Linked DNA regions of Homo sapiens. The protein of the gene in region 6 purifies or fractionates together with the protein of the main gene of each other region. This does not show direct contact. Each region holds a gene or a part of one and is shown on either strand. Other genes may lie near its edges.

The links.
Region 1: the proteins of CEP290 (region 6) and CEP72 purify together in Homo sapiens (affinity purification with mass spectrometry; one large-scale study listed by BioGRID and IntAct). This does not show direct contact.
Region 2: the proteins of CEP290 (region 6) and CDK5RAP2 purify together in Homo sapiens (co-immunoprecipitation; one large-scale study listed by IntAct). This does not show direct contact.
Region 3: the proteins of CEP290 (region 6) and CNKSR2 purify together in Homo sapiens (affinity purification with western blotting; one study listed by BioGRID). This does not show direct contact.
Region 4: the proteins of CEP290 (region 6) and CCDC13 purify together in Homo sapiens (co-immunoprecipitation; one study listed by IntAct). This does not show direct contact.
Region 5: the proteins of CEP290 (region 6) and ECH1 purify together in Homo sapiens (affinity purification with mass spectrometry; one large-scale study listed by BioGRID and IntAct). This does not show direct contact.
Region 7: the proteins of CEP290 (region 6) and CEP97 purify together in Homo sapiens (co-immunoprecipitation; 4 studies listed by BioGRID and IntAct, with this or other methods). This does not show direct contact.

The regions. Positions count from the first base shown.
Region 1 is NC_000005.10:632,340-636,874, reverse strand, and holds part of CEP72 (centrosomal protein of 72 kDa), read right to left. Parts: intron 3,107-4,535; coding exon 2,928-3,106; intron 1,504-2,927; coding exon 1,291-1,503; intron 1-1,290. UniProt on the Homo sapiens protein: Involved in the recruitment of key centrosomal proteins to the centrosome.
Region 2 is NC_000009.12:120,404,633-120,409,167, forward strand, and holds part of CDK5RAP2 (CDK5 regulatory subunit-associated protein 2), read right to left. Parts: coding exon 4,495-4,535; intron 3,837-4,494; coding exon 3,715-3,836; intron 2,617-3,714; coding exon 2,380-2,616; intron 1-2,379. UniProt on the Homo sapiens protein: Potential regulator of CDK5 activity via its interaction with CDK5R1. Negative regulator of centriole disengagement (licensing) which maintains centriole engagement and cohesion. Involved in regulation of mitotic spindle orientation.
Region 3 is NC_000023.11:21,611,918-21,615,417, forward strand, and holds part of CNKSR2 (connector enhancer of kinase suppressor of ras 2), read left to right. Parts: intron 1-3,500.
Region 4 is NC_000003.12:42,706,865-42,711,399, forward strand, and holds part of CCDC13 (coiled-coil domain-containing protein 13), read right to left. Parts: intron 2,935-4,535; coding exon 2,820-2,934; intron 2,276-2,819; coding exon 2,116-2,275; 3' UTR 1-2,115. UniProt on the Homo sapiens protein: Required for primary cilia formation and promotes the localization of the ciliopathy protein BBS4 to both centriolar satellites and cilia.
Region 5 is NC_000019.10:38,817,924-38,822,394, forward strand, and holds part of ECH1 (delta(3,5)-Delta(2,4)-dienoyl-CoA isomerase, mitochondrial precursor), read right to left. Parts: intron 1-4,471. UniProt on the Homo sapiens protein: Isomerization of 3-trans,5-cis-dienoyl-CoA to 2-trans,4-trans-dienoyl-CoA.
Region 6 is NC_000012.12:88,075,378-88,079,912, forward strand, and holds part of CEP290 (centrosomal protein of 290 kDa), read right to left. Parts: intron 3,853-4,535; coding exon 3,715-3,852; intron 2,542-3,714; coding exon 2,320-2,541; intron 1,968-2,319; coding exon 1,845-1,967; intron 1-1,844. UniProt on the Homo sapiens protein: Involved in early and late steps in cilia formation. Its association with CCP110 is required for inhibition of primary cilia formation by CCP110.
Region 7 is NC_000003.12:101,751,425-101,755,959, forward strand, and holds part of CEP97 (centrosomal protein of 97 kDa), read left to right. Parts: intron 1-4,005; coding exon 4,006-4,170; intron 4,171-4,535. UniProt on the Homo sapiens protein: Acts as a key negative regulator of ciliogenesis in collaboration with CCP110 by capping the mother centriole thereby preventing cilia formation. Required for recruitment of CCP110 to the centrosome.

The DNA.
Region 1 (4,535 bases), on a different chromosome or scaffold from region 6:
GCTTCCAGGAGGCGCCAGGGTCACGCGAGACAAGGTTTCTCTTTTTCTTTTTTTTTTTTTTTTTTGAGTTGGAGTCTTGCTCTATTGCCCAGGCTGGAGTGTAGTGATGCCATCTAGGCTCATTGCAACCTCCACCTCCCAGGTTCAAGCGATTCTCATGCCTCAGCCTCCTGAGTAGCTGGGACTATAGGTGCCCGCCACCATGCCCAGATATTTTTGTATATTTAGTAGAGACCTGGTTTCACCATGTTGGCCAGGCTGGTCTTAAACTCCTGACCTCAAATGATCCGCCTGCCTCGGCCTCCCAAAATATTGGGATTATAGGCGTGAGCCACCGTGTCTGGCCTGCTCACGGCAGGAGGTTTTCTGATACTTATGCCACATAGGTGGCCATCACATGGTATCACGTGACACTCTTGGTTAACTTTTCTCGCCTTTGATTTTCAAAATGTAGCTATTGCCATAACCTGGGCCCATACACTTAAAAGTGTGTGTGCATTAGTGAGAGGGTGAGGGAGGGTGTGCACACACACACGTGCAGAGAAAAAGCACTTATTTACCAACCATGAATCTAAACCATGAATGGATTATAAATTTCAATGTGCTGCATTCTTTCCAAAGACATTTTGGAGAGTTCCACAAACAAATAAATACACAGAGAACAGGAGAAATTTCATAGTAAAAGCAAACGATGTGAAAAATATTTAACTACTTAAAAAGGAACTGAAGGGAGTAAAAGTTGACAGGGATTTCATGTTGCTGTAGTTCGAAGGAACCCCCCAAAGTTCCTAAGCTGGAAACTTATTGCCACTCTAACAGTATTAAGCGGAGGGCCTTTAAGAGGTGAACAGGTCACAGGGCCAGCCCTCAGGGAGGCAGGAATGCTGTAGCACAGGGCTGGGTTCCTGATAAAGGATGAGTCTGGAACAGGTCACAGGGCCAACCCTCAGGGAGGCGGGAATGCTGTATCGCAGGGCTGGGTTCCTGATAAAGGATGAGTCTGGAACAGGTCACAGGGCCAGCCCGCAGGGAGGCAGGAATGCTGTAGCGCAGGGCTGGGTTCCCGATAAAGGATGAGTCTAGCTCCATTTCTCTGTCTTGAGCTTGCTTCTGCCTGCACCATGCTTCTGCCTGTGCCATGGGAGGACCAGCACCAGGTGCCGGCACCGTGCTCTTGGACTTCCCAGCCTCCAGAACCATGAGCCACATAAGCTTCTGTTCTTTATAAATTACTCAGTCTGTGGTTTTCTGTTACAGCAACAGAAAACAGACTAAGACACGCGTAAGTACCTGGGTGTGGGGTGAAGTACGTGTGTGGCCTGGGGGCACGGGAGGCCTCTGGCTCCGCTCCGTACAGTGGCGGAAGCTCTCCACAGAGCTGGCTCCAAGGCATCTTCTCCAGACAGCACCCTCTGCAGCTGCTCCTCCTCGTCTCACGGCCCTGCTTCCCAGAGTCCCCACACTGGTACTGTACCAACTGCGGGCTCAACAGATGTCTGGATTCTATTAAAATATTGTAAATAAAATATTTCATAAAACATTGTAAAAGTTTTATTCCATCAAAAATTACATTTTAAGCTTCTGAATAGTGTATGGTATCTGTTAGACCGAGGGGTTAATCACGTGCTGGGTGACACTGAAATGAATCCACAGTGACTTCTAACAGCAAGAGAGCTTGGAACTGGGAACTGGCGCCACTCGCCTGCGAGACTCAGGACAAGGCTGCAAGAATCCAGCCGCATGAAGTGGAGCAAAGTCAGACAAAATGATGCACAAAACAGAAGAGAGAGTCCAGACAGTCTCAATACAAAATTAGCTGGGTGTGGTGGTGGGCGCCTGTAGTCCCAGCTACTTGGGAGGCTGAGGCAGGAGAATCACTTGAACCCGGGAGGCAAAGGCTGCAGCAAGCCAAGATTGCGCCACTGCACTCCAGCCTGGGCGGCAGAGCAAAACTCCATCTCAAAATAAACAAAACAAAAAACAAAATAAACTGTGCCCTTCATAAACTGGACTGTAATGAAATTAAAACTTGTGCTCTTCAAAGCACTGTTCAGATAATGAAAAGGCCAGCCACAGAAGGGAGGAAATGGGCAGCCCTTGTGCCTGAGAAAGGGCCTGTGTCAAAACCACCAAGATCTCTTAGGACTCAATACTAAGAGAAGCAACCCCAGAACAAAGGTGGGCAGACCTGGAGAGAAAAGAAGAGACAGGCACGGCCAGTATCTCAACAGCAGCGGATGCAAATTAAAGCCATAAACACAGACCACAACCCCCTGACAGAGCAGCTAGGATTAAAGGACTCAGCTCCCAGTGCCGGCAAGGACATGGCTCGAGCACCGCTGCCACAGGGCAGACATCTTTGCACAGATGAACCTAAGATTTCAGCCCAAACTCAGGTCTCCACCTGTTGTTTCCACGAAAAGTTCTCAGAAACTCACAGCGGAGGTGGAATAAATGAAGCTAAAGCCCATCAGCACATCCCAGTGGAGGGCAGTGCCACCGGGCAACGGAGTCTCCGAGACACCCTTGCTGGGATCTACAGGTCTGCACGTGGCGGCCTGAGCTCAGGGTTTCCTGCAAGTTCGGTGACTATGCCCCCCTGCAGCTGCCGCAGATGTCAGCCCCACTTGCCACAGGACACTAGGCTTCTTGTCTGTTTTAGACAGTTTGCCTTTTCCTGTGATCTCAGAAGGATACAATTTAAACCATCATGCAGTATGACTATACTCAAATATGTTAACTTTCTCATTTATAACTCTGTAGTCCAAATGGCTGGCATTCGAAAGCACACAAAGACACATCATGAAGATCCTATCCTTCAAGGTAAGTTCCACAAAAAGAGCAACTGTGGACTCCAAGCCCAGTAACGACTATATATATCCCAGAGCCAGCGGACCCACTGGCCTCCTGGCAGATGAGCAGCGCACCTTGGGAACCACGAGAGTCGGCCTCACGCCCCTTCTGGCTGAAGCTCGTGCTCCCGGGAGGCCTGCCGAGGTCCCACTCGCACTCTGCAATGAGGTTCAGGACTGCCTCGTCATCCGCATCCATGACCAGGCTCTGCTTGGCCAAGGCCTCGGTGCACTTGGCTCTGGGGTGGTGTGGTCTGTAAGGAAAAGCAAACTCATCAGCATCACTCAAGCCAGCCATATGCTCCGGCCCACGCAGACCAGGAGAAGGAAAATTCCTGCACGGTCTCTGAGAGAAGCAGCGTGCTGCAAACGTGGGGCAGCCGGGTCCTGTTGCTTCCACTGCAGTGATGCTAAAGAGTGACTCACCAAGGACAATCGGTGAGCAACAGCCAGGTTACGTGATAACATGACAGCATCCCGGCACTGGACAGAACCCCACCAGGACTGGGCCAAATCCCAGCACTGGACAGAACCCCACCAGGACTGGGCCAAACCCCGGCACTGAACAGAACCCCACCAGGACTGGTCTAAATCCCGGCACTGGACAGCACCCCACCAGGACTGGGTCAAATCCAGCACTGGACAGAACCCCACCAGGACGGGACTAAATCCTGGCACTGGACAGAACCCCACCAGGACTGGGCCAAATCCCGGCACTGAACAGAACCCCACCAGGACTGGTCTAAATCCCGGAACTGGACAGCACCCCACCAGGACTGGGTCAAATCCAGCACTGGACAGAACCCCACCAGGACTGGTCTAAATCCCGGCACTGGACAGAACCCCACCAGGACTGGGCCAAATCCCGGCACTGGACAGAACCCCACCAGGACTGGTCTAAATCCCGGCACTGGACAGCACCCCACCAGGACTGGGTCAAATCCCGGCACTGGACAGAACCCCACCAGGACTGGTCTAAATCCCGGCACTGGACAGAACCCCACCAGGACTGGGCCAAATCCCGGCACTGGACAGAACCCCACCAGGACTGGTCTAAATCCCGGCACTGGACAGAACCCCACCAGAACTGGTCCAAATCCCGGCACTGGACAGAACCCCACCAGAACTGGTCCAAATCCCGGCACTGGACAGAACCCCACCAGGACTGGTCCAAATCCCGGCGCTGGACAGAACCCCACCAGGACTGGGCCAAATCCCGGCGCTGGACAGAACCCCACCAGGACTGGGTCAAATCCCGGCACTGGATAGAACCCCACCAGGACTGGGCCAAATCCCGGCACTGGATAGAACCCCACCAGGACTGGGTCAAATCCCGGCACTGGACAGAACCCCACCAGGACTGGTCTAAATCCCGGCACTGGACAGAACCCCACCAGGACTGGGCCAAATCCCGGCACTGGACAGAACCCCACCAGGACTGGGTCAAATCCCGGCACTGGACAGAACCCCACCAGGACTGGGCCAAATCCCGGCGCTGGACAGAACCCCACCAGGACTGGGCCAAATCCCGGCGCTGGACAGAACCCCACCAGGACTGGGCCAAATCCCGGCACTGGACAGAACCCCACCAGGACTGGGTCAAATCCCAGCACTGGACAGAACCCCACCAGGACTGGTCTAAATCCCGGCACTGGACAGCACCCCACCAGGACTGGGTCAAAT
Region 2 (4,535 bases), on a different chromosome or scaffold from region 6:
GTAGAATGCAAGGCCAGAACCAAGAGGACTGAGGGGCCCACTCAAGGGCTTTGGGCAAGGCAATGTCAAGCTGAGGTCTGTATTTTGTACTGAAAGAGTAAGTCTGGAGGCTGCCACACTAACCTAAGCTAGAGATGAGAGTAACCCACAATAGGATCTGGGGGGTGATGTATTTGCAACACTGTAAGGAGGCAAAACCAATAGATGCTGTACAGATGACCTGTGCAACACGTTATAATTTGGAAAGCACTTTCACATATGAAAAGCTATTGGACTCAATAGCTCAGTGGGCAAAACACACTGTAATTCAGATTTCATGGAAGGGGAGACCAAGGGGCAGAGATAGAAAGTGATCTGTCCAGCATAACCCAGCATGTCAGTGGCACAGAGCAAGGAAGCCTAGGGCTTAGGATCCCCCTTCCGAGCTCCTGCACCACTGGGCGGTGGGCTGACTGCACTCCAGCATTTCCCAGGGGTGTGCTACAGTTCCTAAGGCCAAGGAGCCAGGAGGTCAGCTCCATAGAGCTGGCCCCAAGAGGAATCACTCTCAGTGAAAGACATCAGCCTTTAGAACAGAATTTTTAAAACAGATGCACTTAAATACAGACCTGAGAAGTCTTTTGCAAAGGAAGAAATGCTGCTGCCTATAATTCTGATCTTGACTCAAGGAAATTATAAAACTTTTCTGCTGAGGCAGCACTGTGAATTCTGAATGCTCTCCTGGATGCCTCTTGCCAGGCATGATGAGGGCTGCTTTCGGCAAATTTCAAAAGCAGGTAAAGGCTGTTTGATGGCCTCCTCACTTCAGCTACCCAACTCTCCTTCCTGGGTACCCCAAGCACAGAACTGTTCTCCCTGCTTCAAACTCCCCTAGCCTACCCCACAAGTTCCTGAATCCCATCTCCTCAAAGCCTTAAAAAGGGCCAGGTGCAGACCCGTGTTGAAAATAGTAATGCCCAATGCTGAGGTCACACAAAAACCACTACCTTTGTACACTGCTGATGTACAGACTATTTAGAAGGTGGCAATATGGCACCTTTCCAAACTTATGAGGTTCCCCTTGTAGGGTTTTCTCCTAAGAATATTATTTAACAGCAAAAAGCATATTAACATTGATGTCTATTATGGCTCCAAATCAGAGACCACTTTAATAAATCAACGGGGTCATGGATTGGTGACTGAGAATAGCCTGCAAACAATCATTAGGAAGCCCATGTGAAAGCACAGGGAACATGTATGATGTAATATTGGGCAAAAACAAAGAAAGGACACACAATGACACAAAATCCAATTTGAAAAATATAAATTCATGCTCATATTTAATAAATGAAAAAATATGCAAATTTTAAAAAATGATCAATGTGTAGAATCATGAACTTTTTTTCTCTGTTCACTTTTTTCATATTATTACATCATCTTTTTGATTAAATTTTAAGATCCTTGTCAATGAGAAATCAATGAACTAATCACTACGAGCGGACTGACCAGGTGCTCCTTAAGAGATTTATTTTTATTTTTTTAACTAGAGGTATCCAAGTAAAAGTCAGTCCAAACTTTAGTACAATACTTGCTTGTAAAGCAGGCTGGCATTCCTCATCCCACTGGATACACACATTTACCCTATGGGTGTCAGGATGATAATCCCAGGATACCCAACGCTCCAGAGAGTCCAGTGGGGTTTAGGAACAGCCCTGGACTCGAAGCTGGAAATGGTTTCTAGCTCCAGCTCTGCTGCCTACTTGCTGTGCCACTTTGGGCAAGCCCCATCCACTCTCTGGGCCTTTGTTTTTCATCTCTAGAGCAAAGAGGACAGGCTGCCTGATTGCTTGGAGTCTAACCATTTACTGGTTTGCTCCACACCCTGGGTGGGCGGGTGGTAGAGGTGTCTGGTCCTCTTTCTCGTACCCCCCACAGCCTCTCCAGGGCTAGGCAATTAACCTGCACACAAATGCAAAACAGATCCACTTTTTAAACCTATCAGGATGATTTTCAGATCCTGAAAGACACTGAAAGCCAGATTAAGATGTTTAGGTTCCCTTCTAAAGGCAGTAAGAGAAACTAAAAGAAATTTCAGCATCAAAGTGATGCAGGCAGGACTAAATGGATAGGAGGGAGCAAGGCCAGAGGCACTGAGGGTGTCTGGAAGTCCAAATTCCACTTCCCTGAGAATCAAGATGCCTCAGATGGAGATTACGCCACTTTGCCCAAGGTGACCGCTAATTAATTAGCAGTCAGGTCCCCTGGCTCCTAGGGTACAGCATGTCAGCTATCAATGGAAAGACACCTCTGTGGGGCAAAGGCATCATTCAGAAGTTCACATGTCACACACAGATGCTCAGAGCTGCATTCTCAGCAAGTGGGGAGAGGCAGGGGCAGTACCGTGTTTGTCAGGCTGAAGGGGCACCTCAGGGATGGACACGGCTTGGACAGCCAGAGTGAGGGCTCCTTCCTGTGCCTTCTCTGCCCCCCTTGCCAGCTGTTCCTTGAGCCTGCTCTGCAGAGTGCTGCTGGTTTCGATGCTCCTTTCTAGTTGCAAGCGCAGAGCCTGGATCTCCATCAGGAGGCTGTGCAGGTCCCTGAAAGGATCCTGCCCCTTCCAGCCTTCTCCCGACGCCTCTGAGGACATGTGCAAAGAGAAGCCCTGACATCTTCCACAACCAAAGGGTCAGCCATCGAAGGAACTCAATCGCATTTTACACTCACCACCACCATCGCCCTCCCCCTTCCTAAGAACTAGGTACAGTTTAAAATAACAACTTGACTTTAGAAACAAAAATATTGGCAGACTTAATTGCTGCTATTCCACACGCTAAATAAGAGCTGGAAATTAATTTTCGCTTCTGGCCATAAAAGCCTAGCAAATTGCACACCAAACCCCGAAATTATGTCTAGTAGTAATAAAATCTATTTGGGCTAGAATTATAGAATGAAAGGGGATGATTTTAAGAGCCACACTATATTAAAAAGACACAACAGCAAGAATAAAAAAAGCAAGTTGAGGAGAAAATAAAAGCTGTGAGATGACCCCTTTCTAGATAAACTTTCAATAGAGAGAAACCATCTGGAAAATTAGTAAAATAAAAAAAAAAAAAAAACACCTCACCACACCTCAAAATTGATTCTGAAACATTAGACGTTATAGTTGAAGCACTCTGAGCTGGTATCTCTCCTGGGATACAGAGAGCAACGAGGCCAACAACCATCCCCAGAGCAATGCCCAGCACGTGAGAGGTGTCCATAAATGTTTGCTGAATGAGTGGGCAAAAAGTAACATATACTAGCAGGACGATTATAATAAAGGTCATTTCCTGGGTGCCTACTATGTGTCAGGTATCTTGCTAGGATGCTTTTAATAAATGGTCTCATTCAATTTTCAACACAATTCTCCACACAACAGGTGCTGAGAGACATGTTTTACAGAGATAGGTATGGGCTCAAAGGGTGAAGTGGCCTACTGAGGGTCACATAGCTGGGAACAAGTGAGTGGGAACCCGGACCTCGGCTGGCCTGGGTGCTGAGCCTCAGTCCTTCTATGTTTCCTGCTGTTCCTTCAGAAGAAGAGTGGGTCAAAGAGCTAGCTTCAACACCCATCCACTCTACCCACAAGGCCAGAGTGGAGAGGGCTGAGCTCTGCCCTCCTGTGCCTACAGCCAGCTGTCGGGTGGTCTTACAGCCCAAAGCACAGTAGCCTCAAGGTGAGAAGGGCCTCAGTACCTCTCAGTCTCCTGTGCTCTTCATCCAGCTTCTCATACGCCTTCAGCTCCACTCGGAGAGACTGCAATAGCTTGTCATTCTGTGAGAGCAGCTGCTGCCTCAACTTCACCTCCTCCTGCACCCTGAGAAGGCCCCACAGGCATGAGAAGGACAGGTTAATTCTACCTCAGGGTAACTTATTCAAACCCCACAGAGCAGGCCAATTCCACCCTCAGTCACAAGAGTGTGGACCAAGAAGTGACAAGCATGGTTAAGAATTCCATGTGCTCTCTAATCCTAATTCCACTCCTCTGCTCAGAATCTCCCAGTGGCTTCCCATGCCACTCAGAGGAAAACCCAAAGTCCTCACACTGACTCTGCAGCCCGATGTGATTTGGTATCCTGCCAGCCCCCTCTCCAGATACACTGCCCTGCTCTGTCCGGCACAGGCCTAAGCCACTTTGCCTCAGGGCCTGCGCCCATTCTGCCTGAAATGATCTTTCCCAGGTAGCTGCAGCACTCACCTCCTCACTGCATTCAGCTCTCTGAGCAAATGGCATCTTTTCACAAAGGCCTTCCCTGACTCACCCTTGACAAAAAACAGCAACCCACTGCCAAGCCCTCTCCTCCTTACAGGATCTTTCTCCATATGTTGTAGGCGCACCAGACGTACAATGTGTTTGTGTCTACTGCCTGCCACTGTGCACTAAGGCAGAGGCCTGCGTGCTGATTCCACGACTGCAGCCCAGTGCCTGCATGCGTGGTACGGCCAGCAGGCCACCAGGGAAGCACAGCCACTACCTGCTCAGCTCCTGGCCGCTGCAGCGGACCTCCTGGATCAG
Region 3 (3,500 bases), on a different chromosome or scaffold from region 6:
CTGGGTATTTTTTCCATAAATCTTGCCACTTGATTTCTCCGTGTACTTCAAACTGTTCGTAACAGAGTAGTGCATTCATCCTTTCCTGGAAGATGCTTATTATTCAATGAAATGTATGTTTGTTCTAATGATGGTTTTCTGCATTGCTATTTCTAATATTTAGGAGTGGGCAATTTGATGAACACCTTATTCAGGAAACATCAGCTTTAAAAACCAGTGTTTTCAAAAGAATCTTTAAGGTCTAGTTATGGGATGTCATGTTCATGGCTTCCCTGGATTGACCATTAGGAGTAAGTACTCAGGCTGCTTGTTCAAATCAAGCTGTCTGGTGTTATGTCAGCAGAGCAAAAATTATACACGGAAACGAAGCTGTGGCCATTACATCAGCCTTAACGTCCTGTACATGTCCTCCAACACAGAGCGCTTACTGTGCTGCCACACAGTTCAGCAGGCAACCTGTGCTTTTAAAAATCAAAGTCCAACAGCAGTGTGTTACTTACTGTCCTGCTCCAGGCCAGCATTCAGTTTGACCTCCTGAAGTGAATTGTAGTCATCAAGTACAGAACTGCAGAGGAAATAAGTTTAATGTCTAGTTCCAAACGTTTTTCTCAGTTTGCCAAGAAATTAAAAATAGGAAGTATCAGGTGGCCAAAAGAAATAATGGAAGAAAACATGAAAATATAGTCTGTCATATGCTTTAAGGGTGAAGAATTATGTCATCAACCAAACCTCTTTCTTATCATTTACGTTTTATCTTACCTTATATCACAATATATGTTATATAGTGCTTATGAGCTTACAGAGCAATCTAAGAAGCAAGATATACCTAAATCCATGCCTTAGCTGTTTTTCATTTTCCTTATGGGTATGGAATTTGGCCCTGCTTATAAAGTATATATTTAGCCTTCCTTAGAACAGACTTCAATCTGTGTTCTCGTAGTTGAACTACCTTTTGCCTTATTTTGAAATTCAATTATTTAACTGAGTCATACTGTGATTTTCTTAGGCTGAACTCATTTTAGTCTGAAATGGATGGTACTAAAAGTACACAAATGAGACCTGTCTTGTTTTCCTTTGACTGAAAAGTCAGCTTGCATATTAATTGTCTTGACCTGCTTCACTGACATTTGAGAAAAGACAAGTAATTTCCTGTTATCCCAATTAGCAGTTTCAAACCTTACCTGGTATGGACATTATAAGACATCAGCTAAATTAACTTACAAATTATGTCATTCTATGCACCTTTAAAGGAATATAAATTATGAAAGTATGGGACAAAATATGAAGATATATTTCATTCAGAAATAATCTGCCATAACATTAAAATACTATTTTGGTTAATACAGCTTGAAGTCAGCTTAGAAAATCTCGCTTTCCTTTGCCGTATGTACTAGCCAATTCAGATGAGGTTTTGAAAACCATTATCCCTTAATCCTGCTGATTTTCCCCTAAGCAATTATAAGGGAACTCTCCTGGACTCTTGATGCCTTCATTTACTCGGTGAAGTCATGATGTCCTTTATCATTGTCTTGAAGATTACCTACCAGTATTCTCACTTAATTTACACGTATATGTAGCTTGGGCTTAGAAATCTAAAGCAAAACCTAGGTCTTTTAAGGGGGAATAAAATCTATTACCTTGGAGCCACTGTACACATTAGATTATCAGGCTGAAATATTATTGACACTTTCAAAATGAGATCTGCTGAGAAATATATTTTAAGGTTATTTTTAAAAATCTAGACTGAGTTTTGTGGCTCACGCCTGTAATCCCAGCACTTTGGGAGGCCAAGGCGGAGGATCACTTGAGGTCAGGAATTTGAAACCAGCCTGGCCAACATGGCAAAACCCTGTCTCTACGAAAAATACAAAAATTAGCCAGGCGTGGTGGCACATACCTGTAATCCCAGCTACTAGGTGGCTGAGACGGGAGAATTGCTTGAACCCGGGAGGTGGAGGTTGCAGTGAGCCAAGATCATGCCACTGCACTCCAGCCTGGATGACAGAGCAAGACTCTGTCTCCAAAAAAAAAAAAAAGAAAGAAAGAAAAAAAATTAGCCGGTCTTATAACCTGCTCTATAAATAAACAAAATAAATAAATAAATAAGTAAAAAATCTAACATTCTTTGTACACTATTAATAACTTAGGAGCTGTGTAGAATATGCCACTCAGTAGCCTAAAATCTTAAATTATTAGGGCATAGGGGCTAGATTATGAGTACAAATACAGAGCAGAAGATACATTAATTCTTGTCAATCATTTTAAGGGTCCTATCTTCATTTCCTGAAGATTTTCTAAAGGTCATGAATTCTATTTTTAAGAACATTAAAGTAGGAGATATGTAGACAAGGAGAAGGTATTCCCAGAATATGAAATTGTATTGAAGGAAGAAAAGGAACAAGTTGAAAATAAAAATGTTGCAACACTTCTCACTTTTTTATTATCAAGATAAATTATATACACACACAAATAATTTTAAAGAGCATAATCATCATTAATATCTTAAGTTATAGTTCATGTCTAAAGGGAGTAGATGGAGAAGGATATACACAGTGTGAAGAAAAAGACATGATAAAGTCAAAGAAAAAATGGCAGAGAACCTTAACTATATCACTTTTGTAAAGTTGAGCACACCATCCTTGGCTGATTATATAACAAATATGTATTTAAAAAAAACAGAAAAACCTAGAAAGTAGTGAGAAAATTATTTTAATATATTGTCTGATTTTGAAGAAATACTGTTAGGGAGACATAAAACACTGAAGATTAGCTATAATTCTGATACTGGTTATAGGTTAGATTTTTAATTACACCTCCATTTTTTGGCTAAAAAAATGAGAGAAAGTTATTAACTTACAGGAAGTTCAGAGGTGGGGTTGTTCTGGGGTGAATTTCATGGCTTACCAATGTCAGGACTCTCCATTCATTTTTCTGTAATGCAAGAGCTCCAAGCATCATTTCTCATGAGACAGCATTCAAAAAGCCAAAGACCAGGCCCTATCTTTAGTCCTTTCTATAAGACCAAGGGAAACTTTCCATGGATCCTTCCAGCAGACTTATACCCAGATTTCATTGCCAAGGTTGCATCACATGTGCATGCCTAAACAAATGACAAGGGAAATGGAATGATATGAACAGTTTAGACTAACCTTGATTTGTTTTTATGGTGATGAGAAAGAGAAATGTGCAAAACTGCTTATCATTACTTTCTGCATGAGCAGCTCTATTACTGTGTATGTTTTGTCTTCAAATTATATTTGTTCAAGCAGTGTTTCACTTTTTAAATATATATATGCACATGCATAGCCCAGATCACATCACCTTACTTAAAAATTTTGGCTCTATTGAAATGTTAGATATATAAATGAAGTAATAAGTATTATGTAACCCTGAAAATGTAGCAAGTTTGATATAATTATTGTTGCTCATGGAATGAATAAGCATGTTTTCCTATAGACAATAAGTAATCCTAGCTTAGAATACAGTCTCTGGAGATATTC
Region 4 (4,535 bases), on a different chromosome or scaffold from region 6:
AGAATGTGGAGGATCAGAGAGGTTAAATAACTTGCCCAAGGCCACACAGCTGGTAAGTGGGGAGAGAAGTATGCCCCAGGCAGCCCCACCTGTCCAGACTCCATGACCTAATGCTCCTTCCTTTCTCAGGCATAGCCCAGGAAGGGCAGCAGAACCACCCTGAAGTGGCTGGAGTGTGGGTCACACCATCTCTGCACTTCCCTGAGGTGATCTTGAGGAAGGATGGCTGATCCTATGCCTGCTTCTCACTCCCTGGGACTGCACTGAGGCCAGAGCCTGTACCCCTCATACTCAGATCACCCTCTGGAGCTCCTCAGGGCCTGCAGGAGAAGGTGCTGACTCCTCTGTGTTCAGACTCTACATCCAGCCCACCCCTCGCTGTCACACACTGTCCCCTCCAAGCACAGACCCTCTCTCTCCTGGCTCTCTGCCTGGCCGTTTTCCTTCACAAGGAACCAGAGAAAAACTCTTCCTTCCCAGAGACCCTTAGGACCCCACCAGAATCATCAGTTCATCCCGGTGGCCTTTGCTCTAACTTGCTGTGGGATCTCTAGATCCGTGTGACCCCATGCAGGGTCAGGGGCTCCCTGAGGAGTGGGGGCCAGCTAGGGTCCCTCCATAGCCCCATCCCCAAGGAAGGGGCTGAGAAGACAGGGTCCCAGGAGCCGCAGTGGCTTTTCCAAGGAAGGAGCTGACAAGATGCTCGCAGGAGCCCCAGTGGCTTTTCCTGGGGAAGGGGGTGTTTTCACAGTATGTGCACCTGCATTTGTGCATCACTGCACAAGCAACACACAAGTGGCTATGTCTTCACGTGTGGGAATGTGTGTCCACATCCACATGTGTGTGCTCATCTGCACCTGTGTGTCCATGAGTGTGCACACATGGAGGTGCCTGTGTGCACGTACAGTTGCATGCTCCTGAATTGAGGTATGTGTGTGCATCTGCATCTTTGTGTGGGGCTGTGGGTGCACCTGTGTGGCCAGGGTGTCGGAGTTGGGGTGTGTGGCTATGAGTGACCCTCCTTGGGGCCACTCCTTCCTGTAGCTATAAGTGCATAGTTACAGCTGAGAAAGGGCAACACTGACAGTCATAGAGGCCTGCGGATCTTAGGGTGCCCCTGCAGCATCCCTCCAAGTTCACCATGGCGAGGGAGGTGCACTGTACCTTTGACTGGAGCCACTACCTCAAAACCCTTCTGCCTGAAGCTCCAGCTGAGCCCCACCTCGGCCCTCTGCCACCAGCATCCATCAGCAGTCTTGGTGAGCAAACAAAGATGCCTCTTGGAGCTGCTGCCTAGGGGTGGGGTTGTTCAGTGGTGGGTGGGTGCGCCTACCCTGGGTAATCTCTGAACGGCAAGACCCTGGTTTTGGGGTCAGGCAGACTGCAGTTAAATATTAGCTCAGCTTCTTTCTGTGAACCTCAGTTTCTTCATCTGTCAAATAAGACAACAAACCCCTGGGTCATTAGAGGACTGAATGGGGTCAGGTTGCCACAGTAGATGCTCACTCACTGGGAGCTGCAGTGATTATGAAAATACTTATTATTATTACAAGTCCAAGGGTCTGCACCTGAGGAAGTGTCCTGAGGAGTGGGCTGACAAACTGGTTGAGAGCATAGTGCCCCAAGTCTGTGTAGGGTGTGGACGGCTACAGATGGAGCCGGGATGGGGGTGAGGGGATAGGGCAGGGCTGAGTGGCATGGGGGATATGCCCACTTAGGGTAACCAAGGGCTCTTCTGTGTGTGAAGCCATGGGGACATCCAGGGCTAGTACCTAGGATGAGGGCGATGAACACCTGCCCGAGGGACTGCATCTGTCCATTCACAGCCGCCTTGCCATCCCAGAGCTCTCGCCTCTGCCAGTGGGCTGCTGGGCCTCCCTGCTGCTGTAACCCAGCCAGCCCAGGGTCTCCTGCAGTGTCCCACCAGGGCTTCTCTTCTGCCTTCCTGGCCTGAGACATTGGTTTTGGTCATCCTTAAGGAGCCTCTTCTGGTAGAAGTGGTTGAGCTGGCTGCCCTGGGCTGGCTTCCCGGAGCAGATGGAGTCCTCAGACAGAGTCTTATCCTCTCAAGACCTGAGGCTGCCCACCCGGCCAGGCCGACACTGGGCTGTCATCCTATTGCTTGCCTGTCTTCTGCTGCCGCAGGGCCTGCAGGAAGACACTTTTCACCTGGCCCAGGATCTCATGGTACATCCGGAAGTCCTCCTCCTTTCCCCGCAGGGCACTGCCCAGGGCAGCCTTTAGCATTTCATTCTCCTCCACCTGGATGGCCAGCCTGGACCACAGGAGACAGTGCTCAGTGTGGCTGGAGCTGCACACAGGTGTGCGTGGGTGACAGAGGGCCCTGGGAATGTGGTTGCCAGCATGGCTGCTCTTCAGGCTCAGGCTTCCCTCTGACCCATCCCCTCCTCTCACTGACTCTTGTGGGTACCATGGATTCCTCTCTATGGGCCTGGCTCCCTGCAATGTAAGCTACCTCAAGGCCCCTTACAAATTGAGTTCCAATTTGTAGAGGTTCCCGTCTTTCCCTTCCCATGGCTGCGTGGGGTCTTAAAAGGTTTAACGTAGTGAGAAACTGGTTCAGTGATCCATGCTTGATAAAATTTCTCTTGGACTATGGGTCATTGGGGTTTGGGCCGGGCCCTCTGTCCTCTGAAGGCCAGTCCCTGAATTGCAGGCCTAGAACCCAGGACCAAACAGGACAAGCCTTCTGGGCAAATGAGTCAAAAGTGCAAGGGGAGGGACACAGTCCCTCTGCCCATGGAGGCACCTCTGCTCAGACAACCCTACCCTTTCAGGAAGGCGGGGCAGGGGAGCACCTGGTTGTCAGCTCTTCCATTTGGGATTCCACGGGCACATCGGAGAGCTGGGCAAAGGATGGGTCCTTCTTCTCGCTCCCGGTTGGGTTGTGCCTGTTGTTAGAGGTGGGCAGACCTGTGGGGCAGCAGCAACCACTTTCTGTGAGGAGGCCACAGCCCTGTGCTAGCACCCTGCTTCTCCTCCCGCCATTGCCCACTGCCTGCTCTTCCACATGGTGAAACGCTACACCGCCTTCGGGGTGCAGGGCAACTCTGAGCTCTGCCTCCCTCCGAAGCCCTCCCTGATGCCTCCTCTGCATGCCTCTGCCCCTGGCTTTGGCCTCTGCTACAGCCCTGACTCTGCTCGCTTTGTACCAGGGTGGTTCCTCACCACCCTGTCTCCATCTTTATACTTTACAAGTTTCTGGTAATTTGTTTTCTTTTTTTTTTCTTTTTTTTTTTTTTGAGACAGAGTCTTGCTCTGTCACCCAGACTGGAGTGCAGTAGCGTGATCTCAGCTCACAGCAATCTGCGCCTCCAGGGTTCAAGCGATTCTTGTGCCTCCCGAGTAGCTGGGACAACAGGTGCCTGTCACCATGCCCAGCTAATTATTGTATTTTTTGCAGAGACAGGGTTTTATCATGTTGGCTAGGCCTCCCAAAGTGCCAGGATTACAGGCGTAAACCACCATGCCCAGCCTGGTAATTTGTTTTCAAAAAGAGAAACCAGCTGAGCCTGAGGTCTGGCCTGCAGGCTGAGCCCGAGTCTAGACTGTCACTGTACCTGATGCCCTCATACCAGTGGTCCCCATCCAGGCCATCAGCTTCATACTAGGAAGCAGGGGATCCAGGGTCCTGGAGTTGAAGGGTACAGAATGTTCACAAAAAGGAGACAAAGTGGCCCACGGTGGGGTGGTCCCAGAACTTTGGGAGGCCAAGTGGGGGCAGATTGCTTGAGGTCAGGAGTTCAAGACCAGTCTGGCCAACACGGTGAAACCCTGTCTCTACTAAAAATACATAAAAATTAGCCAGGCATGGAGGCATGCACCTCAAGACTAGTCTTGTGTAAACCTGTCTCATTGCTGGGGAGGCAGCAGAGTGGCTCTGCCCTCTACAGGGGCTGGACTGAGTGTTCTTCAGGGCCTTTCCTGGCTCCAGGGGACACTGCTAAGCTGCCCTTGGCTTATTCCACGCATTGAGCACCTCCACATCCCCAACTAGAGCTGCCCTGGATGGGAAACTGCTTGTTCAGCCTGATGGAATTTTCTAAGCCCTGTGACACAGGGAATCAAAAAGAGCCTCAGCCGGGTGCGGTGGCTCATGCCTATAATCCCAGCACTTTGGGAGGTCTAGGGGGGTGGATAATTTGAGGTCAGGAGTTCAAGACCAGCCCGGCCAACATGGTAAAACACCATCATTACTAAAAATACATAAATTAGCAGGGTGTGGTGGCGAACCCCTGTAATCCTAGCTACTTGGGAGGCTGAGGCAGGGGAATTGCTTGAACCAGGGAGGTGGAGGTTGCAGTGAGCTGAGATCGCACCGCTGCATTCCAGCCTGAGGGACAGAGTGAGACTCTGTCTCCAAAAAAAAAAAAAAAAAAAAGACAAAGCTCAACTGGTGGTGGCGAACTTGGGCAAAATCACAGCATCAGAAAACCTCGGGACTGAAAAGGCCCTCAGAGGTGGTGTGACCCACAGTAAATTACTTGGTATCAGAAGACCTGGCTTTCGCCCTC
Region 5 (4,471 bases), on a different chromosome or scaffold from region 6:
CTCATTAATGTTTTTAGAGACAGGGTCTCACTCTGTTATACCAGCTAGAGTGCAGTGGCACGATCATGGCTCACTGCAGCCTCGAACTCCCAGGTTCAAGCAATCCTCCCACCTCAGCCTCCTGAGTGGCTGGGACTGTGCCGAGGCTGCTCTTGAACTCCTGGGCTCAAGCGATCCTCCCACCTTGGCATCCCAAAGCACTGGGATTACACGTGTGAGCCACCATGCCGCATCAGAAGTAGGATTTTAAAATCTGGAACCATGCAGCTGGCTCCAGAGGCCATGCTTTTCCCCAAGATGCCAGACAGCCTGGGACTCAAGGTCTGCAGCGTGAGCAATGCAGTCAATGGTGGTGATGTTTCCTGAGATGAGAAACATCTCACGATGCAGCAATTTCTGTGGCTCCAACTTCAAGATGATCCTGAATCTGACCTTTCCTGCATCAGTTGTTCTCCATGAGCCCACCCTGCTCTCCCTGTTTCCACCTGTGTCCCCAGTCTATTCCCTACAGGCAGCCAGGGGAAGCCAGTGGACACCTTCTTGGGTCAGATCCTCTTTTTTTTTATTTTATTTTTTTTATTTCAGACAGAGTCTCGCTCTTGTCGCCCAGGCTGGAGTGCAGTGGCAGGATCTCGGCTCAATGCAACCTCCGCCTCCCGGTTCAAGTGATTCTCCTACCTCAGCCTCCCAAGTAGCTGGGATTACAGGCGCCCACCACCATGCCCGGCTAATTTTTGTATTTTTAGTAGAGACGGGGTTTTGCCATGTTGGCCAGGCTAGTCTCAAACTCCTGACCTTGTGATCCACCCACCTCGGCCTCCCAAAGTGCTGGGATTACAGGCGTGAGCCACCGTGCCCGGCCCAGACCCTCTTTTTCCCACCTGTGGCTCTTAGAACAAAATGGAACGTCCTTGTCATGACTACCCTGCATGAACACTGTTCCCAACCTGTTACTTTGGGCACACTGGCCTCCAACTCTGTGTGTGTGTGTGTGTGTGTGTGTGTGTGTGCACTGTTCCCAACCTGTTACTTTGGGCACACTGGTCTCCAACTCTGTGTGTGTGTGTGTGTGTGTGTGTGTGTGTGCGGGCACGTGCATTTGAGCCCAGGAGTTGGAGGCTGCGGTCAGCTATGATCGCACCACTGCACTCCAGCCTGGGCGACAGAGCAAGACCCTGGCTCAAAAATAAAAAATAAAAAGAAAAGAAAATGGCAGGACAGAGAGGTGAAAAGACAAGTGGAAATAGGATCCAGATCACTGCCTGAGGGCTGTGCAGTGGTACAGAATCTTCTCATTGAGAAGGTGACCTTGAGTAAAGACCCAGAGGAGAGGGAGGGAGCCAAGGACCTTTGGGCTGACAACCATCCCTCCCTCTTCAACAGCCACAGACTGACTCCTTCACTTCCTTCAGCTATAGCTCAAAGGTCACCTCCTAGAGAGGCCCTCCCTGGCCAACCTGGCTCAACGATGGCCCCATCCCCCGCATCCTGACCCCGCCTTACCTCCGGGCTGCACAGCTGCTATCCTATAATTAGGTCCTTATCTGCTTGAGGGTCTGACTCCCTTTCTAGAATGTGAGCTCTGAGAACACAGGAGTTTTTGTCTTTCTGTCCACTGCTGCATCCCCTGGGCCTAGCACAGGGCCTGGCGCACACGAGCTGCTCAATAAATGATCAATACAGACAACAGTCCCTGTCCTCATGGGGAGGCAAACAAATGAATAAAAAAGTATATTTTGGGGCTGGGCGTAGTGGCTCACACCTGCAATCCCAGCACTTTGGAAGGCAGAGGCAGGAGGATGGCTTGAGGCTAAGATTTTGAGAACAGCCTGGGCAACATTGCAAGACCTCTTCTCTACAAACAATGAAAAAATTAGCTGCACATGAGGCTGGGCATGGTCACCTGTAATCCCAGCACTTTCGGAGGCTGAGGTGGGCGGATCGTTTGAGCCCAGGAGTTGCAGGCTGCGGTCAGCTATGATCGCGCCACTGCACTCCAGCCTGGGCGACAGAGCAAGACCCTGGCTCAAAAATAAAAAATAAAAAGAAAAGAAAATGGCAGGACAGAGAGGTGAAAAGACAAGTGGAAATAGGATCCAGATCACAGCCTGAGGCCAAAGTCCCCCTTACTTTTTTTTTTTTTTTTTTTTTTTTTGAGATGTAGTCTCACTCTATCGCCCAGGCTGGCGTGTAGTGGCGCGATCTCGGCTCACTGCAAGCTCCGCCTCCTGGGTTCACGCCATTCTCCTGCCTCAGCCTCCCTAGTAGCTGGGACTACAGGCGCCTGCCACCATGCCCGGCTAATTTTTTACATTTTTAGTAGAGACGGGGTTTCACTGTGTTAGCCAGGATAGTCTCCATTTCCTGACCTCGTGATCCGCCTGCCTCAGCCTCCCAAAGTGCTGGGATTACAGGTGTGAGCCACGGCGCCCGGCAATCCCCCTTACTTTTAACCAGCATGCCAGCTACTCAGATGACAGACATTTAGCAGCTAAGAGCAAGGACTCTATAGCCAGGCAGCATGAGTTCCAAAATCCCAGCTCTGCCACTTACAAGCTGTGATTATTGGGTAAGTTTCTTGCTCTCTGGATCTGTTTCACCTTTAAATGGGGCTTATAGCAGAACCTGTCTTGTGGACTGTGATTAGAATTAATATGTTTAACGTGCTTAGAAAGGGGCGTCACACACCATGAGTGCTACATAATTGTGGCCACCTTTTTCTTTCTCTAATTAGTAGTTCTACTCTATCACTGGGTCACTGCATGACCTGCCGTTTCTTCCTTCTGGCCTTCGGGGTCTTGCTGCTGAAAATAAGATAAGACGGCCACATTCAGCTGGGAGCTGAAAGATGAAGGACCTGGGCCCGGCACAGCCACAAAAAAGCCCCATTTTTCTGTTCTCAGACATGATCTCTATGAGAGCAAGGGGTCAGGAATCGGGGCTGCTTCCCGTTTCCACATCTGCAGCACCCAGGAGGGGGCTCTGGCACTGGACTGTGTCACTGAATGTTTGTCAAATGAATGAACAAATGAACAAGAGGAGGAACAGAGGGAGATGCAGAAAGAAAGCAGGAGGCTGGGTGCGGTGGCTCATGCCTGTGATCCCAGCACTTTGGGAGGCTGAGGCAGGAGGATCGCTTTAGATCAGGGGTTCGAGACCAGCCTGGGCAACATAGCAAGCCCTGCCTCTACAAAAAGTGAAAAAACTTGCTGTGCATGGTGGTGCACACCTGTGGTCCCAGCTACTTGAGGGGCTGAAGTGGGAGGATGAGGGGAGGTGGTAGGGGCTGAGGTGGGAGGGGTTGAGCTCAGGAGGTGGAGGCTGCAGTGAGCTGAGATTGCTCCACTGCATTCCAGCCTGGGTGACAGAGGGAGACCCTGTCTCAAAAATGAAAGAAAGAGAGAGAGAAGGAAGTGAGAGGTGACAGCATGCTGGCAGCCCTTGCTCGCTGGCCTCAGAGCCCACTCTGGCCATGCTTGAGGAGCCCTTCAGCCTGCTGCTGCACTATGGGAGCCCCTCTCTGGGCTGGCCAAGATCGGAGCCGGCTCCCTCTGCTTGCAGGGAGGTGTGGAGGGAGAGGCGCGGGCGGGAACCCAGGCTGCACGCAGTGCTCTCCGGCCAGCGCAAGTTCCGGGTGGGTGTGAGCTCGGCGACCCCGCACTCGGAGTGGTGGGCCGGCGCCACCTGCCCTGAGCAGTGAGGGGCTTAGCACCTGGGCCAGCAGCTGCGGAGGGTACACCGGGTCCCCCAGCAGTGCCGGCCCGCTGGTGCTGCACTCGAATACTTGCCGGGCCTCAGCTGCCTCCCTGTGGGGCAGGGCTTGGGACCTGCAGCCTGCCATGCCCGAGCCTCCCCCCGCCGCCGTGGGCTCCTGCACAGCCCGAGCCTCCCCGAGGAGCGCCACCCCCTGCTCGGCGGCGCCTGGTCCCATCAACTGCCCAAGGGCTGAGGAGTGCTCCGCCTGCGGCCCTGGTGCAGGATCCACTGGGTGAAGCCAGCTGAGCTCCTGAGTCTAGTGGGGATTTGGAGAACATTTATGTCTAGCTGAGGGACTGTAAATGCACCAATCAGCACTCTGTATCTAGCTAATCTGGTGGGGACTTGGAGAACGTTTATGTCTAGCTAAGGGATTGTAAATACACCAATCAGCACTCTGTTTCTAGCTCAAGGTTTGTAAATGCACCAATCAGCACCCTGTGTCTAGCTCAAGGTTTGTAAATGCACCAATCAATGCTCTGTGTCTAGCTCATCTGGTGGGGACTTGGAGAAACTTTATGTCTAGCTAAGGGATTGTAAACAACCAATCAGCACTCTGTGTCTAGCTCAAGGTTTGTAAATGCACCAATCAGCACCCTGTGTCTAGCTCAAGGTTTGTAAATGCACCAATCAGCACTCTGTATCTAGCTAATCTGGTGGGGACTTGGAGACTCTTTATGTCTAGCTAAGGGATTGTAAACAACCAATCAGCACT
Region 6 (4,535 bases):
GTATGCATAGATTTCAGAATAATATTATTATAACATTTAAAAATTTATATTCATTCAACAAATACTGAGCATCTACTATGTGCCAGCGATTGTTCTAGGTGCTGGGAATACAATAATAAATAAAATAGGCAAAGTTCCTGCCATCAAAGTTTATGGTCTAATAAAAAAAGAAAAAAAAAAGATGAACAAAAGACAAGTACATGTCTAGTATGTTAAGATAGTAATAAATGCTAAGGAGAATGAAATGCAAGGCACAGGGGTGGGTTTTGTTACATAGGTAGACTACAAATTCTGTTTACAGAGAAAAGGGTACTAAAATTTCCAAACAATATGAAAGCATTTCTTGAGTATAAATTAGAAATGCCCAAGCAATGAACCTGAAAAAATATTCTCACTAGATTCCTGAATGCCAATTTTAATACTGGGCATAGACCCCTGTTTTCTCTTTCTAGTTAGTAGTAATATCTTATACTGCTATGGATGTGATGGCTTACAAAAGACTTCCGCATATCATATCATTTTATGTAAAATAATCCTGAGAAACTGGCAATACAGATAGTATTATTCCCACTTTAAGGAGGAATAAACTGAATAAATAAACTAAATAAACTGTAGCATAGAAGAGTCCAGGCAAAGCCACAAGGCTCTTAAAACATTCTGATAGGAATCAGGTTAGAAACTGGTATAGAAACACACCAGTTAGGAACAAACATACCAGTTTCTAACCTATCCCCATTTAGGGATAAGATCAGGCCTATCCCCAATTAGGGAGTTAGAAAGATGGAAATCCAAAAGATTAAGGACACTTTGATCTTACAGTTTTCACCAGCAAAGCTTCTGACAGCAAGCATGTTGTGACTCCACGCAAATAGTGTCAATAAATTACACTGACATTAATGAATTTTCATAGAAAATAATTTTGGGAGCATACTCTATTAAGAAATTTGAATTCCATTACCTATTTTCTATTCAATGCCTTTAAAGACAGAATTTTCTTTTCCATTTTCATGTGATTGAAATTATTTTATAGACATTAAATATTTTCTGGGTAAATTTTATAATAAAAATTTTCCTAACCATAGCTCCTCCATACTGATTTTCTTCAATGGCAAATATTACTGCTAACATCAACATTTCCCAGTTCACTTTCGATATTTTGAATGTTACCAACAAGTTATCTCCAATTTATTGTCCATAACAAATTTAATTACACGCATTTTAGCCAATTTTAGTTTTTTTTGGGGTTATTTCAATCAGTAATTTTTATTACAAAACAGTTTACTATGAACTATAAAATTTTAAGCAATTTCTCCCACAGAATTAATCTATGAGCAGATTGGTTACTGATTATTACTGCAAATACTGAAGATATTCCAAATAACTTTGCTATCTGAAATAACAGCCTAGTCTCCTGAAGGATTAAAAAGGACCTATTTGGGTCAAAGTGGGGTATCTTAAAATGTCTATCTTTCTGTCCCAAAAGTCAAAAGCACCAACCTGTGTAAATGATTACTTTGGAGAGAAATGATACACAGTTGAATATGTTAAGGTGTGAAGGAACTTCAGAGGTACTCTAATGTCAGAAAGATGAATGAAATTGATGTAGTAATTTCCAAATAAGAGTTACATTATAGGTATCTCCTCAAGTAGACTCTAAATTCCTACAGAACAGAAACTTAGACTTTTCTACGTTATTCAATACTGCTTATAGTCCTCAAAATTAATACAGAATTAATACAGCCAGGTCATCAAATTAAGGCAGTATATTAACTGTTAATCAGCTATGTATTTAACTTACTCTGTCACTACCTTAAGCATATAAGTCAGTATGTTTCTTCACATACCTTTTCTTTCATAGGTTTTAGGTCTACTTCCTCCACCTTTCCCTCTAATTGGTTCTCTAGTTTTTTAACTTTCCTTTGGAGTTCTTCAATTAGACTTTGTTTATTATCTGTCAGGGGTTTGCCCTAAAAAATAAAATGTAACTTTATATTTTTACAAATAAATGTAAAACAAAATAGACAGTAAATATTTCAATTATATAATAGCAACTTTCTGAAGCTATCACTGACCATACTTTCTAAATGACACTTAATACATAAGATAATCTGGTAGCTGCTTCTGCATTTTAATACAACATACTAATATGCTACTCTAGAACTATAAACACAATAGAAGTCACAAAAGAAATTAATTACATTAATCAAAGTGATTTGAAAGTCAGTTTTAACAAATACCATAGATAAAATGATAAAGTAGAAATAAACTACTACCTCTATATTGTAAATCAGACATTATCAGAGTTAAATATAAAATTACCTGTAATCCACTGGTTAGTCTTTTAATTTGCCTTTTCAGTTCATCATTCTCTTGATCAATTTCCTCTTTCTCTCTAAGTATTTTATTATAGGCTTTTTGTTTCTTTTGCAGTTCATTATTTAAGTCATTCAAATTATCAGTTAGTGAGTTTTCTCTGTTTTTACTTGTTTTAAGTGCTTCTTTCAATTTTAAAAGATTTTCATTTAAATCTTCAACTTGTGTCTAATAAGAGAAAAAGAAAGGTATTATTCATGACTCTTCAAGAAGTATCAATGATAAAAGGAACATAAAACAGAAAATATACCATTATAAGAAAAATTCAGTCTGAATTTTTAAGTACACAAGAGAAAAAAAATAACCACAAACTACATATATTTTTCCATATTCATGTCAAGTCTACCTTGAGGAAAAAAGTCGACTTTGAGAAAAAAAAAAAAAACTAGTGTAAAGCAATTCATCTTCAACAAACACCCACAAACAAAATTTTATCAAATATGCACGTTTCATTTTGGCTGAATTAATTAAACAAACAAGTATATAACAATATATATGACAACGTTTTAAACACTATGAAGCATAAGAGTAGTACAGAACAAATCTCTGACTTGAAGTAATTTCTAACCTAGTTTACAAAGATAAGATATAAAAGGGTAACTTACAATACTAGACAATATGTATGCCACTAGAAAGGAGTTCCTAGCTGTCCTATGGTGAGAATGATGGGGACACACTGTATGTTTCCATCTATAACATATTCTGGAAAAGGTGAAACTATGGAGACAGTAAAAAGATCACTGGTTGCCAGGGGTTTGGTGAGGTGCAGAGGAAGGAATGAAGAAGAGAGGCACAGAAGATTTTTAGGGCAGTGAAAATACCCTGTATAATACTATAATGATGGATACATATCATTATACATTTGTCTAAACACACAGAGTGTAAAATACCAAGAGCTAAAATAGAGGTAAACTTGGACTTTGGGTGATTATGATGTATCAATATAGGTTCATCAATTTTAACAAATGTACCACTTTCAGGGTAGGAGATATACAGGAAATCTCTGTACCTTCCTCTCAATTTTGCTGTGAACCTAAAATTGCTCTAAAAAAATAATAAAGTCTTAAAAAAAATCCTAAGTAAAATATTTCTTAAATTTAATTTCATTAGAAACAGTAGTTCATAATGGCCTATCCTTTCCTAATCCCCAAGATGATAATCAGTAAATGAGTATCATAAAGAGACTTATTGTTGAAAAATGCATGTGTGTGTCTATGTCTAGCCACCAACAGTGCATTATAAATTCCCTATTCATCAACAAAATTACTATATATCATAGTGAATTCTCTTCCAATAGGAATTATCAGAAATTTTGTTACATTAACACGTGTTGATGTTCACCTTTAGCTCTCTAGTATGTCGATCAACGATTTGTTGAACATTGAGATGGGCCTCTTTTTGAGAAGTTGCAGAAATAATACGTTCTTCAGCAGCTGCTGTCATTTCTGCCCGGAGTTCTAAAAGTGCCCGACTAAGTGCCTAAAAATTAACCAAAAAAAAAATGTAATTTTTAAAGGAAAACTGACATTTTATATGAATATATGATATAAAAAATAAACAAGCTTTATTACTTCCTACTATTTTTCTAAAATATTATGAGTTTAATGGAACATATTTCACAAATTAACAACTCAACTTTTTCAAATAAATCTTTTGTAATTACACTCAATTCTTTCCACATTGAATGTGAAAGTTCAAAATCTTAATAATGATTTTGAGAACTCAGCATTAAATCAAGCTATTACAAAAAACAGGTATGTTTTGTTTTCAAACATCCAATTTTAGATATTTATATTACTCACTTACTACATCCTTCCATATGAAATTAATTGAATTTAGGTAGACAACAAAAGGACTAGGAAAGGCTTAAAGTTTACCCATAAATTTCATAGCTAGCACAGAAAAACACCAGCATCTTCTAAAACAATTTAAATAGATCAAATCTGAGATAAACTAAAAAAAACCCTAATAAATCAGAATACACTGACCAACTCCTTCTCACAAAAACATCTCTATGACCCCCTTTTTTCATCCCTTTTTGTCATTATCATACTTCCCTCAATCCCTCAAATTGTTCAAAATTGTTCATTTGTTAAAAATAGCCTCAGTAGCATAAAATTCCAGTAGAAAAAAAGAAAATACAATGTAATATATATTATATT
Region 7 (4,535 bases), on a different chromosome or scaffold from region 6:
AGGTCCGCTTGGTGCAGAGCTGAGTTCAATTCCTGGGTATGCTTGTTAACTTTCTGTCTAGTTGATCTGTCTAATGTTGACAGTGGGGTGTTAAAGTCTCCCATTATTATTGTGTGGGAGTCTAAGTCTCTTTGTAGGTCACTAAAGACTTGCTTTATGAATCTGGGTGCTCCTGTATTTGGTGCATATATATTTAGGATAGTTAGCTCTTCTTGTTGAATTGATCCCTTTACCATTATGTAATGACCTTCTTTGTCTCTTTTGATCTTTGTTGGTTAAAGTCTGTTTTATCGGAGACTAGGATTGCAACCCCTGCCTTTTTTTGTTTTCCATTTGCTTGGTAGATCTTCCTCCATCCTTTTATTTTGAGCCTATGTGTGTCTCTGCACGTGAGATGGGTTTCCTGAATACAGCACACTGATGGGTCTTGACTTTTTATCCAATTTGCCAGTCTGTGTCTTTTAATTGGAGCATTTAGTCCATTTACATTTAAAGTTAATATTGTTATGTGTGAATTTGATCCTGTCATTATGATGTTAGCTGTTTATTTTGCTTCCTAGCCTTGATGGTCTTTACAATTTGGCATGATTTTGCAGTGGCTGGTATCGCTTGTTCCTTTCCATGTTTAGTGCTTCCTTCAGGACCTCTTTTAGGGCAGGCCTGGTGGTGACAAAATCTCTCAGCATTTGCTTGTCTGTAAAGGATTTTATTTCTCCTTCACTTATGAAGCTTAGTATGCCTGGATATGAAATTCTGGGTTGAAATTCTTTTCTTTAAGAATGTTGAATATTATTGGCCCCCACTCTCTTCTGGCTTGTAGAGTTTCTGCCGAGAGATCCGCTGTTAGTCTGATGGGCTTCCCTTTGTGGGTAACCCGACCTTTCTCTCTGGCTGCCCTTAACATTTTTTCCTTCATTTCAACTTTGGTGAATCTGACAATTATGTGTCTTGGAGTTGCTCTTCTCAAGGAGTATCTTTGTGGCGTTCTCTGTATTTCCTGAATCTGAATGTTGGCCTGCCTTGCTAGATTGGGGAAGTTCTCCTGGATAATATCTTGCAGAGTGTTTTCCAACTTGGTTCCATTCTCCCTGTCACTTTCAGGTACACTAATCAGACCTAGATTTGGTCTTTTCACATAGTCCCTATTTCTTGGAGGCTTTGTTCGTTTCTTTTTATTCTTTTTTCTGTAAACTTCCCTTCTCGCTTCATTTCATTCATTTCATCTTCCATCACTGATACCCTTTCTTCCAGTTGATCGCATCGGCTCCTGAGTCTTCTGCATTCTTCACGTAGTTCTCGAGCCTTGGCTTTCAGCTCCATCAGCTCCTTTAAGCACTTCTCTGTATTGATTATTCTAGTTATACATTCGTCTAAATTTTTTTCAAAGTTTTTAACTTCTTTGCCTTTGGTTTCAATTTCCTCCTGTAGCTCGGAGTAGTTTGATCTTCTGAAGCCTTCTTCTCTCAGCTCGTCAAAGTCATTCTCCGTCCAGCTTTGTTCCGTTGCTGGTGAGGAACTGCATTCCTTTGGAGGAGGAGAGGTGCTCTGGTTTTTAGAGTTTCCAGTTTTTCTGCTCTGTTTTTTCCCCATCTTTGTGGTTTTATCTACTTTTGGTCTTCGATGATGGTGATGTACAGATGGGTTTTTGGTGTGGATGTCCTTTGTGTTTGTTAGTTTTCCTTCTAACAGACAGGACCCTCAGCTGCAGGTCTGTTGGAGTTTGCTAGAGGTCCACTCCAGACCCTGTTTGCCTGGGTAACAGCAGTGGTGGCTGCAGAACAACAGATTTTCGTGAACTGGGAATGCTGCTGTCTGATTGTTCCTCTGGAAGTTTTGTCTCAGAGGAGTACCCGGCTGTGTGAGGTGTCAGTCTGCCCCTACTGGGGGGTGCCTCCCAGTTAGGCTGCTCAGGGGTCAGGGGTCAGGGGTCAGGGACCCACTTGAGGAGGCAGTCTGCCCGTTCTCAGATCTCCAGCTGGGTGCTGGGAGAACCACTGCTCTCTTCAAAGCTGTCAGACAGGGACAGTTAAGTCTGCAGAGGTTACTGCTGTCTTTTTGTTTGTCTGTGCCCTGCCCCCAGAGGTGGAGCCTACAGAGGCAGGCAGGCCTCCTTGAGCTGTGGTGGGCTCCACCCAGTTCGGGCTTCCGGCTGCTTTGTTTACCTAAGCGAGCCTGGGCAATGGCGGGCGCCCCTCCCCCAGCCTTGCTGCTGCCTTGCAGTTTGATCTCAGAGTGCTGTGCTAGCAATCAGTGAGACTCCGTGGGCGTAGGACCCTCCGAGCCAGGTGCGGGATATAATCTCCTGGTGCACCGTTTTTTAAGCCCGTTGGAAAAGCGCAGTATTAGGGTGGGAGTGACCCGATTTTCCAGGTGCCATCTGTCACCCCTTTCTTTGACTAGGAAAGGGAACTCCCTGACCCCTTGCGCTTCCTGAGTGAGGCAATGCCTCGCCCTGCTTCGGCTTGCGCACGGTGCGCTGCACCCACTGTCCTCTGCCCACCGTCTGGCACTCCCTAGTGGGATGAACCCGGTACCTCAGATGGAAATGCAGAAATCACCCATCTTCTGCATCGCTCATGCTGGGAGCTGTAGACCGGAGCTGTTCCTATTTGGCCATCTTTTTTTTTTTTTTTTTTTTTTTTTTAAGAAACAAGAGTCTTGCTTTGTTGTCCAGGCTGGCTTCAAACTCCTGGGCTCAAGCAATCCTCCCACCGCAGCCCCACAAAGTGCTGGGATTACAAGCATAAGCCACCATACCTGGCCCTTGCTTCATCTTATACCTTCACTCACTCTCCCTTCTTCTGTACTATTTTGAAGCGGATCTCAGATTACATATCATTTCACCTGTTAGTATTTCAGTATATGTCTCTAAAGAGAAGAACTCTTAAAGAAACAACCACAATGCTATTATCACATCTTAAAAAAAATTAACCAAGTGCCCTAATATCAGATATTCAGTCTTATATTTTCAATCCTTATAAATGAATTTTGTATCTTAGAAACAGAATTCAAATAATTACAGCCTTATGTCACATTTGGTTGATACATTTCTTAAGTTTCTTTCTTACTCTGTTTAGTGTCTTAAAGCAGCAGTATATTATTATGGCATACTCTGTAGATTTGCTGTGCTGACTGAGCAGTTCTTTCTTGGGGCCTCCTGGGCTTGCACTCAGATCACAGATGGGGCTAGAGTCATCCGAAGGCTTAACTTGGCTAGATGTCCAAGATGACTCTCTTGAATCTCTCAATCTATCTGTCTTTGTTCTATTTTCTTTGCTTTCTTTTCTCTCTCTCTCCCTTGCTTTTCTTTCTTTCTTTTGGTTGTAGTTGAAGAAGTCAGAGTATTTGTCCTATAGAGTTTCCCATTATCTGCTCATTTTACCAACTACATCCCTGTGTCCTTTGACATATTCCTCTCCCTTTTGTATTTTCTGTAAATTGGATATGGATGTTTGTTCAGATTCAGGTTTGATTTTTTTTTTTTTTTTGAGGGGTGGACTATAAGGTTGGTGGACTATAAGGTTGACAGGTATGATTATAGCGCACTATAGCCTCACACACCTGACCTCAAGTGATCCTCCCACCCCAACTCCTGAGTAGCTGAGATTACACATGCCACCATGCCCGGCTAGTTTTTTTTTTTCTTTTAACTGTCATTATGAACTAATGGATTCAAATGCAGTTCATCTATTTAGGCATTTCAGTGTGACAGAATGAATGGGGAGAATACTCATTGCTTCCTTGAAAATGATTTAAAAATATTTGGCACCATTAGTCCAAGCTCAATGGAAGTGCCCCTAAGCAAGAAAAAGGGTTTGAAACATTATTAGAATGGTGAATATGAGTCAGAATGATAGATTTTTTAAAAAAATTGAGTGAATTTTATTTATGAAAAACATACAATGGTGCTATAAAGGTAAGTTAACAAGGAAGATCATTGTTGCCTGACAATGTGTGTTGACTATTCTCATGCCATCTCCTCTTTTTTATGTTCCCCAATTCCAGTTTGAAAGCTGAATGGCTCTATAGTCAAGGCAAGGGGAGAGCATATCGGCCTGGCCAGCACATCCAGCTTGTCCAATATCTGGCTACAGTCTGCCCCCTCACTTCTACACTAGGTCTTCAAACTGCAGAGGATGCCAAACTAGAGAAGATTTTGAGCAAACAGAGGTAAGCCCATTTATTTCTAACAACTGATGAATTCACAAGTTAAAATACCTCTGAGTCTTTGCTATGGTGATAGTAAGCCTGAGGCAAGTGCTGCGGCCCACATTTCTGGACACTCAGTCCCCTTGTCACTGCAACAGTTCCTGCAGGGAAGCTGAATCGTGCACTGCAAACAGCCAAACAATATGGTATGGAGGAATAGAGGGGTTTTTTTGTTTTAAAGACAGGGTCTTGGTCTCTTGGTCTGTGAGTACAGCAGTGCAGTCATAGGTCACTGCAGTTGCAACTACAGGTGCATGCCACCATGGTTGGCTAATTTTTTGTAGAGATGAGGTCTCACTTTGTTCCTCAGTCTGATTTTAAACTCT